Linked DNA regions of Homo sapiens: region 2 is linked to region 1. A link means that fine-mapping ties the variant in region 1 to the expression of a gene that starts in the linked region. Tissue or cell type: whole blood. Region 1 holds a variant in brackets; the other region holds the start of a gene. All regions are shown on one strand. Distances are between the middles of the regions.

Region 1 (10,930 bases):
GAACAGGGGAGAATGGCTCTGCATTTGTTTTCCAGGGCTGCGGTAACAAAGTTCCACTCCCTGGGTGGCTTAAATAACAGAAATGTATTCTCTCACAGTTTGGAAGGCTGGAAGTCTGAGATCAGGGTGTCAGAAGGCTCGGTTCCTTCTGGGGGCTGTGCGGAAAGGCTCTGTTCCAGGCCTCTCTCCTTAGCTTGTCAATGTTCATCTTCTCCCTGCTTCCCTTCACATGGTCTTCCCTCCATGTGGCCTAGCTTTGGGTTCAAACTGACCCTTTTTATAAGGACACTGATCATATTGGATTAGGGTCCACCCTAATGACTTCATTTTAATTGCCTCTGCAAAGACTACCTCCAAATAAGGTCACATTTTGAGGTGCTGGAGTCAGGACTCCAACACATCTTTTTTGGGGGAATACAATATGATCCGTAACATGCTCCTTCCCTTTGTATTACAGCGTTGATCTCGAGGCCATAGACCTCATTCATTCGAACGAGGCCACAATAGCATGTGGACACACATCATGCTAGCTCAGTATTGCCCCACGCACAAACCAGGTAACTGCAGGGCTCAGAACCATCACGAGGTTGCTTTGCCCCTCAGTGTCTTTGGGAATTCCTGCACTGTCTAGGCCAGGCAGGGCCACTGCTCACGCCACCTCTTCCACGATGGCCTTTGACTTCACTCTGGTGCTCCACGTGGTGGATGTTCATATGGCACCACTTGCTCTAAGGTACCTCTTCAAGTTCTGTATAACTGCTGCCTGACACCCCTCGCAAATCAATGCCTGGGACCCTGATCCTGGGCCTTGCCTTTTTATTCCAAAAAGGATAGAGAAACTGATCTACCTCCCCTTAGAGGAGAACCACAGCAGAATTGCTCAAGTCCTGAGGTGGTACATTATCTAGAAAGATGGCTATTTTTCCCCACATCTACAGATACATACAGATATTGGACCCAGAGCCACAACCCACCTCCATTCCTCAGATCCTCTGCTGAGTTCTGTTGTTCATTCCAGACTCCTTCATTCATTCAGCTACTATTTACTGAGTCCCTAATATGTTTGAGAGACCTAATAATAACTACATGTATTAGTTTCCTATTGCTGCTATAACAAATTACCACAAATGTAATGGTTACAGGCAATATAAATGTATTCTCTCCCAGCCCTGGAGGTCAAAAGTCCAAAAAGGGCATTCTTCTGGAGGCTTGAGGGGAGAATCCTGTTCCTTGGCTTTTTCAGCTTCTAGAGGCCTCACATTCCTCGGCTTGTGGCCCCATTCTGTCCTCTACTTTTTTTCTTTTTCTTTTTCTTTTTTGTTATTTTAATGTTTTTGAGTACATAGTAGGCGTATATATTTATGGGGTACATGAGATGTTTTGATACAGGCATGCAATGTGTAATCACATCTTGTAAAACGGGGTATCCATCCCCTCAAGTATTTATCCATTGTGTTACAAACAATCCAAGTATACTCTTTTGTTGTTTGTTTGTTTGTTTGTTTGTTTTTGAGACAGAGTCTCACTCTGTCACCCAGACTGGAGTACAGTGGCGCAATCTCAGCTCACTGTAACCTCTGCCTCCCAGGGTCAAGCACTTCTCCTGCCTCAGTCTCCCACATAGCTGGGATTACAGGTGCCTGCCACCACACCCAGCTAATTTTTGTATTTTTAGTAGAGACGGGGTTTTACCACGTTGGCCAGGCTGGTCTCAAACTCCTGACCTCAAGTGATCCGCCTGCCTCAGCCTCCCAAAGTGCTAGAATTACAGGCATGAGCCACTGCGCCTGGCCAAGTATACTCTTTTAGTTATTTTAAAGTATACAATTAAATTATCATTGACTATAGTCACCTGTTGTGCTATCAAATACTAGGTCTTATTCATTCCTCCTATTTTTTGTATGAACTAACCACCCCAACCTCCTCCACAGCCCCCCACTACCCTTCCTAACCTCTGGTAACCGTCCTTCTATTCTCTCTCCCCATGAGTTCAATCGTTTTGATTTTTAGACCTCAAAAGTAAGTGTGAACATGCAGTGTTTGTCTTTCTGTGCCTGGGTTATTTCACTTAGCATAATGACCTCCAGTTCCATCTGTGTCATTGTAAATGACTGGATCTCATTCTATTTCATGGCTGAGTGGCACTTCATTGTGTATAAGTACCACATTTTTTTTATTCATTCACCTGCTGATGGACACTTCAGTTGCTTCCAAATCTTGGCTACTGTGAACAGTGTTGCGACAAACACAGGAATGCAGATATCTCTTCAATACACTGATTTCCTTTCTTTTGGGTATAGACCCAGCGGTGGGATTGCTGAGTCGTATGGTAGCTCAATTTTTAGTTTTTTGTAGAACCTCCAACTGTTTCTCCATAGTGATTGTACTAATTTACATTCCCACCAACAGTGTATGAGGGTTCCTTTATCTCCACATCCTCATCAGCATTTGTTACTGCCTGTCCTTTGAATATAAGCCATTTTAACTGGGTTGAGAGGATATCTCATTGTAGTTTTGATTTGCATTCCTCTGATGACCAATAATGTTGGGCACTTTTTATATGCCTGTTTGCCATTTGTATGTCTTCTTTTGAGAAATGTCTATCCAAACCATTTGCCCATGTTTTAACTGGATTATTAGATTTTTTTCTTGTAAAGTTGTTTGAGATCCTCCTATATTCTGGTTATTAATCCCTTATCAGATGGGTAGTTTGCAAATATTTTCTCCCATTCTCTGGGTTGTCTCTTCTCTTTGTTGATGATTTCCTTTGCTGTGCAGAAACTTTATTTTTTTGTTGTTGTTTATGGTTTTTCTTTTTTGTAATCCAAATTTTATTTCAAAATTTGGGAAACTTGATTTTCTTTTATATTTTATTTGCTTTTATTTCAACAGTTTTTGGGGAACAGATGGTGTTTGGTTACATGGATAAGTTCTTCGATGGTGATTTCTGAGATTTTAGTGCACCCATCAGCCAGATGAAAAATGCTCAGCATCACTAATTAACGAGGAAATGCAAATCAAAACTGCAATGTAATACCACTTTACTGCTATAAGAATGACCATAATCAAAAAACCAAAAAATAATAGATGTTGGCATGGATATGGTGAAAAGAGAATGAACTAATGGCATTCGCAGTAACCTGGATGGAATTGGAGAACATTATTCCAAGTGAAGTAACTCAGAAATGGAAAACCAAATATTATATGTTCTCACTCATAAGTGGGAGCTAAGCTATGAGGATGCAAAGCCATACAAATGATACAACGGACTTTGGGGACTCAGGGGAGAAAGGGTGGAGGGTGAAGGATAAAAGACTACACAATGAGTACAGTGTTTCTATACAGGTGTATAGTGTGTAAGTATCTTTTTCATATAATGGCTTCTTTTCTCCTGGGTAGAAACCCAGTAGCAGGATTGCTGGATCAAATGGTAGATCTGCTTTTAGTTCTTTAAGGGATCTCCACACTGTTTTCCACAGTGGTTGTACTAGTTTACATTCCCACCAGCCATGTAAATGTGTTCCCTTTTCACCACATCCACAGCAACATCTATTATTTTTTTATTTTTTGATTATGGCCATTCTTGCAGGAGTAAGGTGGTATCGCATGGTGGTTTTGATTTGCATTTCCCTGATCATTAGTGATGTTGAGCATTTTTTCATATGTTTGTTGGCCATTTGTATATCTTCTTTGGAGAATTGACTATTCATGTCCTAAGCCCACTTTTTGATGGGATTGTTTGTTTTTTTTTCTTGCCGATTTGTTTGAGTTTCTTGTAGATTATAGATATTAGTCTTTTGTCAGATGCATAGTCTGCAAAGATTTTCTCTCACTCTGTGGGTTGTCTGTTTACTCTGCTGATTATTTGTTTGGCTGTGCAGAAGCTTTTCAGTTTAATTAAGTCCCATCTATTTATCTTTGTTTTCGTTGCATTTGCTTTTGGGTTCTTGGTCCTGAAGTCTTTGCCTAAGCCAAAACGTCTAGAAGATTTCTCCAATGTTATCTTCCAGAATTTTTATGGTTTCAGGTCTTAGATTTAAGTCTTTGATGCACTTCGAGTTGATTTTTGTATAAGGTGAGAGATGAGGATCCAGCTTCATTCTTCTACGTGTGGCTTGCCAATTATCCCAGCACTGTTTGTTGAATAGGCTGTCCTTTCCTCACTTTATGCTTTTGTTTGCTTTGTCGAAGATCAGTTGGCTGTAAGTATTTGGCTTTATTTCTGGGTTTATTTCTTTGTGCCTATTTTTATACCAGTATGATGCTGTTTTGGTGACTATGGCCTTATAGTATAGTTTGAAGTTTAGTAATGTGATGCCTCCAGATTTGTTCTTTTTGCTTAGTCTTGCTTTGGCTATGTGGACTCTTTTGGTTCTATATGAATTTTGGGGTTGTTTTTTCTAATTCTGTGAAGAATGATGGTGATCTTTTTATGGGAATTGCATTGAATTTGTAGATTGCTTTTGGCAATATGGTCATTTTCAGAATATGGATTCTACCCATCCATGTGCATGGGATGTGTTTCCATTTGTTTGTGTTGTCTATGATTTCTTTCAGCAGTGTTTTGTAGTTTTCCTTGTAGTGGTCTTTCATTTCCTTGGTTAGTCATATTCCTAAGTATTTATTTATTTATTTATTTATTTATTTATTTTGCAGCTATTGTAAAAGGGGTTGAGTTCTTGATTTAATTCTCAGCTTGGTCACTGTTGGTGTATAGCAGTGCTACTGATTTGTGTACATTAATTTTGTATCCTAAAACTTTGCTGAATTCACTTATCAGTTCCAGGAGCTTTTTAGATAAGTCTTTAGCGTTTTCTAGGTATACAATCATATCAATGGTGAACAGCGACAGTTTGACTTCCTCTTTATAGATTTTTATTCCCTTTATTTCTTTCTCTTTTCTGATTGCTCTGGCTAGGACTTCCAGTACTATGTTGAATAGAAGTAGTGAAAGTGGGCATCATTGTCTTATTCCAGTTCTCAGGGGGAATACTTTCAACTTTTTGCCATTTGGTATAATGTTGGCTGTGGGTTTGTTACAGATGGCTTTTATTACCTTCTATGCCGATTTTGCTGAGGGTTTTAATCATAAAGAGATGCTGGATTTTGTCAAATGCTTTTCTGCATCTATTGAGATGATCATGTGATTTTTGTTTTTAATTCTGCTTACTGTTTATGTGGTGTATCACACTTATTGCCTTGTGGATGTTAAATCATCCCTGCATCCCTGGTATGAAACCCACTTGATCATAGTGGATTATCTTTTTGATATGCTACTGGATTCGGTTAGCTCGTATTTTGTTGAGGATTTTTACATCTATGTTTATCAGGGATATTTGTCTGTAGTTTTCTTTGTTTGTTATATCCATTCCTAGTTTTGGTATTAGGGTGATACTGGCTTCATAGAATGATTTAGGGAGGATTTCCCTCTTTCTCTCTTTTGGAAGAGTGTCAATAGGATTGGTACCAATTCTTCATTGAATGTCTGATAAAATTCAGCTGTAAATCCATCTGGTCCTGGACTTTTTTTTGTTGGTAACTTTTTAATTACCATTTCAATCTTGTTATTGGTCTTTCAGAGTTTCTATTTCTTTCAGGTTTAATCTAGGAGGGTTGTATATTTCCAGGAATTTATCCATCTTCTCTAGGTTTCCTAGTTTATGCTCATAAAGATGTTCATAGTAGCCTTGAATGATCTTTTGCATTTCTGTGGCATTGGTTGTAATAGCTCCCGTTTCATTTCTAATTGAGCTTATTTGGATCTTCTCTCTTCTTT[TCTTTG/G]TTACTCTCGCTAATGGTCTATCAATTTGATTTATCTTTTCAAGGGACGCACCTTTTGTTTCATTTATCTTTTGTATTGTTTTTGTTGTTGTTTCAATTTCATTTAGTTCTGCTCTGATTTTGGTTATCTCTGTTCTTCTGCTGGGTTTGGGTTTGGTTTGTTCTTATTTCTCTAGTTCCTTGAGGTGTGACCTTAAATTGTCTATTTGTGCTCTTTCAGACTTTTTGATGTAGGCATTTAATGATATTAACTTTCTTCTTAGCACTGCTTTTGCTGTAACCCAGAGGATTTGATAGATTGTGTCACTACTATCGTTCAGTCTCTACTTTTTCTTCTCGTATCACTTTCTGTGACTGTCCCTCCTGCCTTCTTCTACTTCTTTTTTTTTTTTTTTTTTTTGAGACAGAGTCTTGCTCTGTCGCCCAGGCTGCTGTCTTCTTCTTATAAGGCCCCTTGTGATTACACTGGGCCTACCTGGATAATCCAGGGTAATCTTTCCATTAAAAAATCCTAAGTTAATTATACCTGCAAAGTCCCTTTTGCTGTGTAAAGTCATGTATTCACGGGTTTCAGGGATGAGGAAGTGAACATCTTTGGGGGGCTGTTATTCGGCCAACCACACTGCATATCCAGTTGAATGGATTCTACCTCATAGTTTTTTCCTCTCATTTGCCCTCTGTCACTGCCTCCTTCTCTCCCAGTTGGCCCAACATACTTGTTCATAACTAACCCCTAATCATGGACAAAGTTTAAGTTCTTTTCTCAGAAGCTTTCTCTTCTGCTCCCTTGTAAATCAGGGCCAGAACCCTTCCCTTACTGGAGAGCCCTTCACCCTCAGAGGCAAGGCCTCTAGCTCTCCTGTTAGTGTCACAAACCGTAGTCAGGTATTTGGACAAGGATAATGCATCTATGGTGTGTGTGTGCAGAGTACAACCATGAATAAGCCTCCTGTGCTCTTCCATTTGCCCCTCCAGACCCACTCTCCACCTTTTTCCACCTTGCTTTGGATGCCAAGCACATAAACTCTAGGAACCAACCACATCAGTGAGCTCTCTTGTCCTCTGGCTTCCTGCTGGGCTTAGCCAGTGAGAGCACTGGCAGGAGTTGGAGGGTGGGAGGAGGATAGGGGTAAGATATGGACTCCTCTGACGCCTCTGCGAGGCTGCCACGGGCTGCCGCATCCCTTAGTGGAAGATCTCAGCTCCTGCAGGATGGCCCTCTCCACAGAGGCCTCTCTGAGTTCAAGCAACTTCTCTTTCCTCTCACACTTTCAGGTCTAGTTTTCCTGTCACCGGCCCCAGGTTCTGCACTGTCTCTTGTGCTTTGGCTAAATCCTGCTCACACATTTGTAAAGACTCTTTATTAAACTTTTCTCAGGTTACCCGTTGTGAGGGTGTCAACTGTTATCTGCTGGAATCCTGACTGTTACACTCCCCAAAATGTAATTTAGATGTCCTCCAAGCTGCCCTAGCTTATGGCTACAAATGAAACTATACTGTAATTTAGATCCAGATGTTGGTATTTCAACCCCACACCTAAATCAAGGCAGGAACCCAGTTCCCTTTCAAGGTTCTAGAACTCCTGCATCCCCAGGGATATCTCAAGCTTGGCTACTCCTCACATTTCCTCCTTGCCCCATATGCCATGGACCCCCCACTGAGAGCGTAGAGCTATCCAGTTCATTGGATCCACGCTCTTCCTGAAGCCCAGAGGCCCTCCTGCCTTTGGTATTAAGATACTCCGGGCCGGGTGCAATGGCTCACGCCTGTAATCCCAACGCTTTGGGAGGTCGAGGCAGGCGGATCACCTGAGGTCGGGAGTTCGAGACCAGCCTGACCAACATGGAGAAACCCCGTCTCTACTAAAAATACAAAATTAGCCGGGCATGGTGGCACATGTCTGTAATCCCAGCCACTCGGGAGGATGAGGCAGAATTTCTTGAACCCGGGAGGAGGAGGTTGCAGTGAGCTGAGATCGCTCCACTGCACTTCGGCCTGGGCAACAACAGTGAAATTCCATCAAAAAAAAAAAAATCATACTTTTTCTCTAAGCTAGATTGAGCTGGCTTTGGTAGACTATGGATATGTGAGTCAAAGTCACGTGACCCTGAACCCGACTGAATCTAGGCCTGGCTGCCCAGATCCCTTCATTGCTGATAAACCCTCTGCCCCTTCTGTGCCAGGAATCCCCTCCCTCCTGGTTTACTCAGAAAAAAGAGCTATAGGGCAGGGATTGTTTGACTCACCTCCCCACCCCATATCCACAAATGTAACCACTTCCCCACCTGTCCTCACTGCCTTCCTCTCATCTCAGAAGAAATGTTTCTGTCTCTCCATCTTTGTGCTTGATTCCTTCCTGCCTGCTCTGAGAACTGCCTCAATGGGGTACTGACTCCTCTCTTTCCCACATCTTCAAACTCTCTTCTACTAAAATAATTCTTTTTGCCTGCAAACATTCTCAAAGTTCTCCCAAATGGTTTTTAAAAGGCCTCCTTTGTTCTTTTGTTCTAGATTTGGCTATTTCTGTCTCTCTTTCCTTCCCTGCTCTTCCAAATGACTCAAAAGAATTGTCTAATTCTTCCAGCTCCATATCTTCACTTCTCATCCTCAACCCTGCAGACTGGCTCCTGCCCTTTGAGGCCATAGAAACTCTTAAATGCCAAGCCCAGTGGGCTCCTTTTGTCCACATCCTACTGGGCCTCCCTACTGCATCTAACTATTCCAAAGCCCTTGAGCTCTTCATCTCCTCCCCCAAGGGCAGGGTACCCATAGCAGAGGCTTGGGATTGCCCTCAATGAGCCTCCATCCCTTCCTTTTGTTCAACACCCCCCACAGAGTTTTACTGGAGAATACAAATGCCCAGTAGTACTCTACCTTCCCCATCCTCCCCTGCAGCTGGGCGTGGCACTCTGAGCTCTTGTCACTAGGATGTGAGCATTCTTGGTGCTGCGGAGCAAGAGGTGGGAGGCTCATGTTAAGGGTAGTAGCATCAACTCACCAACCTGGTCCCCAGAAGACACCCTGGATCAGAGCTAGCCCTGCAGCCATGGACTGCTCCTCTCTGGACTATAAAATAAACTCATATCTCATTTAAGCTATTATATTTTGGGGACATTTTTGTTATAGCAGCTTGGCCCATACTCTAAGTAACAGAGTATTGGTTGGAAGGAAGGCAATCTATAGGCCTTATAAAACCTCCTCCCTGACACCCAATATAATTTAGGTCCTCCTGTTACCCACTCTTTTAGCACCCTGTACCTCTTCCAAGTGTTTATCACAATTTGTGATTCAATAATGATTTGTGTAATGTAGTGGTCACTGTTGATTGCCTTCCCAGCAACTATCCTCCACCGCTTACTTTCTTTTTACTCCACAGAAGCCTGATTTTGTTCAGGTATGCATGCCTCCTTCATTCAGATTCGTGCTGCATAAAATGGTGAGCTTAGACCAATTAGGTTCTCTCTTGTAGATTCTGAATTAAAGAAACAAATAATGAGCCACTTACCAAAAGGATCTAAGACTGAAGAGTCTTAGATTTATAATGTAGAGAGAGCTAATGAAGCTACAATGGACCATGTCCATGCCCAAGTGCTAGGGAAACCAAAACTAAGTGCTAGGGAAACCAAAACTTCCTGCAGGGTCCAGCAGGAAGGACAGAAGCAGGATGTGATGTGCGCCGTGATGACCCGTGCATCCAGCCTGCGGAGGACCCATAGCCACCTTGGATCCAGTCATAGATAGTGTATTAGACTGTTCTCATGATGCTAATAAAGACATACCCGAGACTGGGTAATTTATAAAGGAAAGCAGTTTAATTGACTCACAGTTCCACGTGGCTGGGGAGGCCTCACAGTCATGGTGAAAGGTGAATGGGGAGCAAAGTCAGGTCTTACATGGCAGCAGGCAAGACAGCATGTGCAGGGGAACTCTCATTTATAAAGCCATCAGGTCTTGTGAAACTTATTCACTGTCACGAGAACAGTATGGGGGAACCACCCCCATGATTCAATTATCTCCACCTGACCCTGCCTTTGACACATGGGGATTATTAAAATTCAAGGTGAGATTTGGGTGGGGACACAGCCAAACCATATCAGATAGGATCCACAATTATCCCTAAAATATACCACCTTTCCCTGGTAGTAAAAGAAAGTGCACCCCTCTTTCTCATAATCAAGTAAGGCTGGATTCAGCTCTCCAAAAATGCTGCCTCTTTCATGCTTGCAGGCTTTGCATGCACTCTGCCATCTACTTGAACATGGTGAGGAAAGATGACAGGCAAGAATAAGGATGGTGATGGCGATAGTAACATTACCATTTATCAAGCATTCATATACATCTTATATACATTATTCTTAATCTTTATAACAATGTTGCCAGCTAGGTTCTGCTCTCCCTACTTCACAGATGAAAAAAACTGAGGCTTCAGAAGGACATTGACTTGCTTCAGATCACAAAGTTAGAAAATGGCAAAGCCAGGATTTGAATCCAAACCTATTTGACTCCAAAAAACAGGTTGCCTAGGCCTGCTGTCTCTTTGTCATTTTTTAAACTCAGCCTCTGGAGACAGACAGACACGGGTTTGAATTTGGGGCTCCAACACTTCCTAAGTGGGTAGCTTTGGGCAAAGCACTCCACCTCACTGAGCCTATTTATTCATCTGTAAAATGAGTTCAGCAATAAAACCCACTTCAGAAGGTTACTGAGTTTAAAATGAAATTAATGTAAAGTGTTTGGCTTGTACCTGACCCATCACATCAATGAAAGCAGACATCGTTGTTTCATTATCATTTTTACCCTTTTCACTTAGGCAAATAGCTCTGTCTCCTTTGCCCTGCCCAAGTTAGAGCTCTGTATCTTGTCACAGACACAGTCTAAGAGCTGCTTCTTCACAGGGCCTCCTGGGGCCAGGCCTGCATAGCTCTGTGGAAGTAAGCTCGGGTTGGCCGAGGAATGGCCTGTAATTGATCCCAGTTAGGGCTGGGCAGGTCCTGTCCTCCTTGGCTGGGGCCACAGGAAGCAGGACGCTGCCTGATTTATGTCCCTGTTGCACCGAGGATGACCTGGTGTCCTCTCTACGTGTTCCAGCATCAGACAAGGTCATAAAACAGAATTGGTGCTGCACATTTGTTCCTTCAGGGCCAACTTG
Region 2 (8,000 bases), 130 kb after region 1:
TGTGTGACTGTGTGGGAGCCTGGACTGACAGATAGGCCAAGGGCTACTCTCTGGCATCTCCAGGTGTTTTGTAGCAAACAGCCACTTAGTGCTTTGTCCTGGACTCCACTCAGCCTCAGGATGGGGAATAGCCAAGAATGGCAGCCTCAGCGCAGAGGCAAGGTCAGAAAGAGACGGCGCTTCAGAGTTTCCTTTCCAGACACCCCTCCCCGCACTGTGAAGTTCCCCTGACCGCCCTCCTGGTTCACAAAGAGCATTAAGAAAGCTGCGGTGGTCTGAGCAACATAGCCCAAAGGGCTGAGCCTCCTGGCCTGCCTGCCCGCCCACCCTGGGAGTCCCAGTGGTGAGGCTCAGAGAACTGCTAAGGGGAAAGAACAGCTGGAGTTTCTGTTGATGTGAAGAAGGCAGCTCTTGGCCTCCCACTCCCACACTTCTTTGCCTATAAATCTTCCTAGCAGCAATTTGAGCTACCTGAGGAGGAGGCAGGGCAGAAAGGGCGAGGGCCTGCCTCTGACCTGCCGTGTCCTTTGCAGGAAGGAGGTAGGCACCTTTCTGAGCTTATTCTATTCCCCACCCACACCCCCAGGCAGGGTTGGAAATGAAGGACTTTTTTAACCTTTGTTTTGTTTTTTAAAAATAAATCTGTAAAATCTGTCTCTTTGGTGCCTTTCTCCCCTAGGAATGCCTGTCTCTGGGCCCAAATGGCTACTTTTCACCCATACAGACAGGTGGGTCCCTGGGCTGGGGAAGGGACCTTAAGTGGATGGCATATCCTCCACACTTTTCTGGAGCTGGGTCATTTGAGGGTGCCCTCAGCTGCAGTTCACACGGTAGATACCAGCTTTCTTCACACGGTGTCCCTTGGAGTGAGAGGGTCCAGAAGCCCTTTCTGCTCTGCGCCCCCCTACCCGCCATTCCCACTTGGGAGATGATGACTGTTGGGCTAGCAGCCTCTGGACACCTGGGGCAGAACCCAGACTCTCCCATCTTCCAGCACACACCTCTCGATAGAGCTGCACAGCATCCAGAATAGCCTTGGGATGGCTTTGGTTCACTGAGCACTTTTGCATGCTCAAATAGAAAATGATTAGGGCAGAGATGAGGCATCTAAGCCTTGAATAAAGAAGGAGAAAGGGCATTCCAGACCGAGGCATAAGTGCAAAGGCACAAGCATGAACGTGGAAGTGCAAATGAGAGGCAGGTGAGCTGGCTGGATTAGACGTGTGTGCTGCTAACCGTGACCTGTGTTGACCACATGCCTCTGAACCAGGCACTGTGCTAGAAATGAGACTGGGGTGAAGCACAGAATAACCATGTGCCCTCTTGCGTGGAGTGAAATCTACCCCACATCTATGGGGGGAGGGGAAAAAGAGGCAGCTTGGCCTTACTGCTCCTCCCCCTTCATCAGGTTTTTCCCTAAGGGACCATTTCTACCTGTTAAAAATTTAGGTTATGGCTGCTCACATCTGTAAACCCAGCACTTTGGGGAGGCCGATGTGGGAGGATTGCTTGAGGCCAGGAGTTTGAGACCAACCTGGGCAACATAGAGAGACCCCATATCTACAAAAAAATACCAAAAAATGGCAAGGTGGTGCATACCTGTAATCCCAGCTATTCTGGAGGCTGAGGTCGATCACTTGAGCCCAAGAGTTCAAGGCTGCAGTGAGCTATGATTGCACCACTGCACCCCCAACCCAGGTGACAGACAAAAACCCTATTTTTTTTTAAAAAAAAAGCAGGGGTGGGGGTGGTTTGAGGGTCAGGCCACAACCTACTGAATCACAGTCTCTAAAGGACAATTACTTACTTGAAAGTAACTTTCAAGAACCAACACTCACATCTTAATAACTCCTCTTTGGAAAGCCTATTAAAATGGAACTGTCTTGGAGGAGAAACACACTGATTAGTTGATCCCCAGGGGGTAGAACTAGGGACTGGAAAGCCTGTCCCAGGAGGCAGGGAATGGCTGGCAGGACCCTGAGCTGACGGGAGGAGGAGGATGCTGAGATTGGGGAGTGAGCCCTGGGGAGCCCCCAGGCAAGAACGAACGCCCCATGTGCTGCCGCCTCTCCTGCTGCTGGAGTGCAGGCCACGTGCGCAGGTGCACCACTGGCCTATAGGACTCTGGGCAGTTCTTTTCACTTTCTGGACCTTAATTTTCCCTTTATGGAAGAAAATGAAAACCAGGCCCCACCTGAGTTTGTTGTGTGTAGCAAAGAGGGAGGGAACCAAACCTACTCCTAAAAGAAGATGTGGTGAATTTGATTCACACCAATAAGTATCCATCTTCTTTAGATGAAAAGCTCCAACCTGCTGCAAGTTTGCAGGGTGCACCTGCAATAGGCATTTGCTATTCCTGTTGTTTACACTTCACACTGAATTTCACAGACCTATTTCCATCATGATCCACAATTTAAAGAAATATTTCCCAAACTTGTATACACATTTCAATATCTATCAACTGAAACAAACATTTCATGAAACAAAACCTACCCTTACGTACAATATAGAATATTTTCCATTGTATTCCTGTTCGTATTTTAAAAATCTTGGTCACGACCCACTAAACTCATTACACGGCCTTCAGATAGGTCACAACTGGAACTTTAAAAAGCACTGCCCAGAGTAAATCACAACGGTTCAACATCCACGAATTTACATGGTTCTCTCTCCTGGGTGACTGGTGTATGTACTGGTGTACATTCTACTGAGAAGGTAAAGGGCTCCACTAGGTGAACTGTCCAAGGTCACAGGTGCCGAGTGCCCTTCAGATCTGGCTGAGGCTCTGTGCAGAACGGCTTTTCCTGCGTGGCAAACACCATACCTTGATTGCCAGCTGTTCCCAAGAACCAAAGACACTTCCCCTGGGGAGGGAAGAGGAGTCTGTACAAAATGACAGAGCCTCCAGCCAACCAGAACTGGCCTACTCAGACCCACCCTCTTCCAGGTGATTGGCCCCAAAAGGGTTGCCAGCCCCACTCCACCTTGGGGCCAGCTTCCCCCAAAAGGTTGCATCCCCGGCAGGTCCCTCGCAGGCAGTCCATCCTGACTGCTCCTGTGGGTGCAGCTCCTCAGGTAAAGGGGGAGGAGCTGCTTGTTCCAGATCTCCAGGAGCAGGCCATTTCTTCCCCAGCTCTAAGCTGGGAAAGTTTGCTCCAGGCCATCCTACCTGCTTCCCCATATGGCTCTCAAGGAGGGACTCAGGTGAGGGGGGACAATGGTATGGAGAGGAAGAAAGCTTGGGGACAGCTGAGCTAAGAGGGATCCAGTCTGATGGCTAAAACAGTACCAAGGGGAGGCACCAGAGTGAGCCCAGGAGTACCAGCTGAGCCTCCAGTCCTGGGGAAAGGTGGCTCCGAGAGGGGACATTGCCCCAGGAGAAGAAAGACAATCCGTGTGCATGGACACCGGGGTGGGGGAGGTTGTATTCCACAAGATTTTGTAGCCAATGAAAAGCTGGACTCCCCTTGCTTCCCTTAACTCTAAACCCCCTTGGCGAGCCGGAAAGCAGAGACCCGGGGGTACATTCCCTCCCCGACTGTAACTGAGAGCTCCCTCTATCCCCACTGGGACTGATGGTCCAGGACTAGGAACCTGTGCCCCCTTAAGACCTAATGGCTGATCTTTAACCCTTTCTTGAAGCCAACGAGAGTGGGGAGCAGGGCACAGGGTGGAGCTTGAGGGACCACCTTCTGCAGGTAGAACCTGAACAAGAAATGTGGAGGAGTGGACTGATCAGGGGCCTCCACAGACCACGGGCTCCCAGGCTGGGGCATAGGAGGGGCAGGAGGAGCTGGTGGGTCCCACCCAGTCCTGGGTCTCAGCACCCTCCCAGGCCTGACCACAGGAGTTCACAAGACCAACTCTGCCTGTGTGCCCTGGCTGAGGCCCAGAGCCCAGAATAAGCATCGGTTTGCCCTACCCTGGTTGGGAGGAGGCTGGTGAAGAGGGTGGGACAGCCACAGAGGGGGAGAAAGCCCCTCCAGCCTTTTCCTGCTCCTGTAGTACCTTACGCAGTACCTCGCACACCTCCCACAGTGCACCTCCCGAGGCAGCCTTGCCAGCTCCCAGTACGGGGTTTGACCAGGCTTCTAGGAACCAGAGAAGCCCAGCTGCAGCCAGCCCTCCAGGAGCTCAGACAGGAGCTGAATAGAGTGCGAAGGGAAGAAGCCAAGCCCACGGGGAGAAATAACAGGGCCGAGAACCTTGTGAGATGAGCCTCAGGGCTGAGCTAGGCCCAGGTCAAATGGAACCCAAATGCCATGCTGGAAGCTCTGGCTGGGGGATCGGGCAGTCCTACTCAAAGCCCAACCCCACCCATTACCCGCCGTGCAAATGCCTTGGTGTAAAGTGTAAACAGGAATGGCAAATGCCTACTGAAGGTGCACCCTGAAAACCTGCAGTAGGTTGGGGCTTTTCACCTAAAGAACACGGATACTTATTGGAGGAGAAACAAGCTGATTAGTTGATCCCCAGGGGGTAGAACTAGGGACTGGAAAGCCTGGTGCCCCAGGAGGCAGGGAATGACTGGCAGGACCCTGAGCTGACAGGGGAGGAGAGGATGCTGAGATTGGGGAGTGAGCCGTGGGGAGCCCCCAGGCAAGAACGAACGCCCCATGTGCTGCCTCCTCTCCTGCTGCTGGAGTGCAGGCCACGTGCGCAGGTGCACCACTGGCCTATAGGACTCTGGGCAGTTCTTTTCACTTTCTGGACCTTAATTTTCCCTTTATGGAAGAAAATGAAAACCAGGCCCCACCTGAGTTTGTTATATGTGTAGCAAAGAGGGAGGGAACCAAACCTACTCCTAAAAGAAGATGTGGTGCATCTGATTCACACCAATGAGGCCGCCCAGCCTTGCAGAGGTGAGCTGTCACTGAGATCTGCTCCAAGCCTCCATGCATCCTCTCTCACACAGTGACCCTGGCCCAGCCCCCTTGCTGAGCGCTGCCCTGAGGTATTGTGTGTCCCCTGGACAGCAGTATTCACCTGAGTGTCCCAACTCAGTGCTTCTCAAGCTGCAGTTTGCATTTCCTTGATCTTTCCTTCTATGTTCTCAGCGATTGATCCCAGTGACCCAAATGGACCCCTGCTTTCTCCCCTGAGCAACTGCAACCCTAAGCAAGTGATTTAACCTTTCTAAGCCTCAGTTTCCTCATTTATAAAGTAGACATAAGCACAGCATCTCCTTCAAGGGGCTGTGGTGTGCCTTTAACAGGACAGGCACATAATACACTTGGCCAGGTATCCGTCTCAGTGTCTGGGATTATGCATAAGGAGTGCAGACTTAATCTTGAAGAAAATGGAGTTTTAAGCAAAGGAGTACCAGTCAACTTGGAAGAGAGAATGAACACAAATAACTCATTCGTTGTTTCATTCATTTGCTGAACAAATAATTATCAATAGCATGAATTATGAGGCAGAGGCATAATGAGTGAGGCAGACAGTCCCTAGCATCGCTTGGCAGGTACTGGAGGAGAGGTCTGGGAAAGGGACAGAGGCACATCCTGGGGGAGGGACCTAACGGAGGAGATGTCAAGGCCAGCTTCAGACAGGAGGAAGCTGGGTGCTGAGGAATGATGCGGAGCTTGTTGGCTGATGGAAGGAAGAGTGCAATCAGAACAGAATACAGAGGTGGGGAAGCCTAGGAGACTTCATAGTGAAGGGTAAAAGATGGAGACTCGGAGGCAGGGTCAGGAGGCTGTTATAGGAATCCAAGTGAGAAACAAGGAGGCACAGATAGGACAGTGAGGGAGGCCAGGAGGGGAGTTTTGGGCACTAGGAAGGAGGCAAAAGCAACAACTTGGCTGTCGGGAGAGAAAGCAGGGGTCCCACTTGGGTCACTGGGATCAATCGCTGAGAACACAGGAAGGGGAGAGTGAATGGCAGGATGGGGGAGGAGTGAGTAGGGGGACGGAGGAGAGTGAGTGGGAGAACCCCCAGGGTTTGCTGATGGGCTGCATGTGGGGCATTAAATTATTTGTAACAATATTTTTATTTAAACCAGCACATCCGAATTTATACCTGTTTCACTGTTTTAATGTGGCTACTAGACATGTTTAAATTACATGTGACTCACACTATACTTCCACTGGATGATGCTATTCAAGATCTCTTCCTACACTCATGAAAGAACGCGGCTATACGTGACTGCAAAGGCTCGAGTGCACAGGCACAGATGCTTCCCCCTGCCAGAAGCAAGGTCTGCCTCTCCGTATTAGTTATTCCTTCCTTTTCACCTTAACACATTAGGGTCTGTTTTCCAGAGAGTACATATAAATCTACCTCACCCTTTTCAATAGCCATGTTGATTTCTATTATACAAGTTGAGCACCCCTCATCCAAAAATCTGAAATCCAAAACGCTCTAGAATCCGAAATTTTTTGAGCACTGACAGGACATTCAAAGGAAATGCTCCCACTGGAGCATTTTGAATTTCAGATTTCCAGATTAGGGATACTTAGCCAGTAAATACAATGCAAATATTCAAAACTCCAAAAAAGTCCAAAATCCAAAACACTTTTGGTCCAAACTTTTGGATAAAGGATACCCAACCTGTATAGAGATGCCTAATTCATTGATCCAGTTCCCTACTGATGAACCCTGGGGTTGTTGCATTAGTTTGCTTTTTCAGAGAAGGCTATGGGAACATCCTGGGACTAGTCACTGCAGAGTCTCCATTCCTAGCTGCAGGCAAGCTGGCCAGGGGCTGTGAGCACTGACAGTGTTACAGTGGAGGAGCTGGACTTGGGAGGCTTCTCAGGCATGGTTAAGAGATGTGGACGGTGTCCTGCACTCAGCAGGAAACCACAAAATAACTTCAATTTTTTTGTGTGTAAATTGCTAACTTTGAATTTTTCCTTCATTAAAAAAGCAACCTACTGTAAATACATTACAGAAAATTGAGGAGAAAATAAGAAACTAATTTTATTGCACAAACACATTCTTCCTTTTAGTCTTATTTTCTGATGCACGTTTTTATTCTTGCTTAAATTGTAATCAGAGTGCACCTCAATTTTAGATCCTGCTTTTTTCCTTTCATGTTCCTGTATGAGCATTTTTCTACGTGACTGCAGAGTCTTCCTAACACGTTTATTTGCCAGTCCCTTCAGCTGGACACTAAAGCCTTCTTCAGTTATATTTGAGGAGCTGAGATAATGCCTCTCCCTGTGACCCAAAACGCCTTCTCTGTGGGTGCTTTCCAGGCAGCATTCAACCAAGCTCAAGTCTCGCTTGTGTAAGGGAAACAAGCACACACCCATCAATACAACCACCCTGTCCCCTCCAGTTGCCACCCCATCTCTGTCCTCCTTACAGCCCGACTTCTGGAAAGACAGCCCCACTCCCACCCAACCCATGTGCCTCTCCTTAAGTCCTCTACCTCCTCAGTCTCCCTCCCATTCCCACCTGGTCTAGGCCTGGGCCCTGGCCTCCTCTCCCTCTGTACTCTCTCCCTCTCTCCCATAACATCCCTGCCCTCCTGGCAAATCCCAGAACTTTCTCCTGAGCCTGCCTGCCTTCTGGGCTCCAGCCCCCTTCCTCCAACCAGACAACCAGGCATCTTCTCCTTTCTGGTACCTCAGCCCCGTCCCTCAAATCCATGGCCAAGTCTTGCCCATGTGCCCTCCCTGACAGCCCCTCACCACCTATTCCTCCCCATCCAGCTGCCAACTCCCTGGTGTTGCCCCTGATACCTCCCAGGGGCTGGCACCTAACTCATCTTCCTGCCTCCAGCAGTGCCCTCCCTGCCACCCCACCATGGCCAGGCTCCAGATTTCAGCTGGAGTACTTTCAGGTTTGTGGAGGGTTTTTTTGTTTGTTGGTTTTTGGGTTTTTTGTTTTGTTTTGTTTTGTTTTTTCAAATAAAAATCTGACTGAGTCACTCCCCAGAGGAAATACCTTTCAGGGCTCCCCATGACCCTCAAGATGAAGTCCAATTCCCCGAGCCTGACATGCGGGCCCTGGGTGACCTGGCCCCGGCTCACCTCTGCAGCCTCATCCCT

What was found. PIP is the estimated chance that this variant, and not a neighbour inherited with it, causes the effect.
Region 2: it holds the start of A3GALT2, and the variant in region 1 is fine-mapped to the expression of A3GALT2 in whole blood (TOPMed, PIP 0.98).

Annotation. Positions count from the first base shown.
Region 1 is chr1:33,443,828-33,454,757 of GRCh38, reverse strand. No RefSeq gene overlaps it. Among named protein-coding and RNA genes, the nearest start is that of PHC2, 18 kb to the right of the region's middle. The variant TCTTTG/G (reference allele first, on the strand shown) is at 5,777.
Region 2 is chr1:33,316,280-33,324,279 of GRCh38, reverse strand. A3GALT2 (alpha 1,3-galactosyltransferase 2) reads left to right here and starts at 3,182. Exons shown (of 5, transcript NM_001080438.1): 1 at 3,182-3,204. The coding sequence starts at 3,182. It overlaps PHC2 (polyhomeotic homolog 2), which reads left to right. Exons shown (of 15, transcript NM_001385109.1): 15 at 1-654.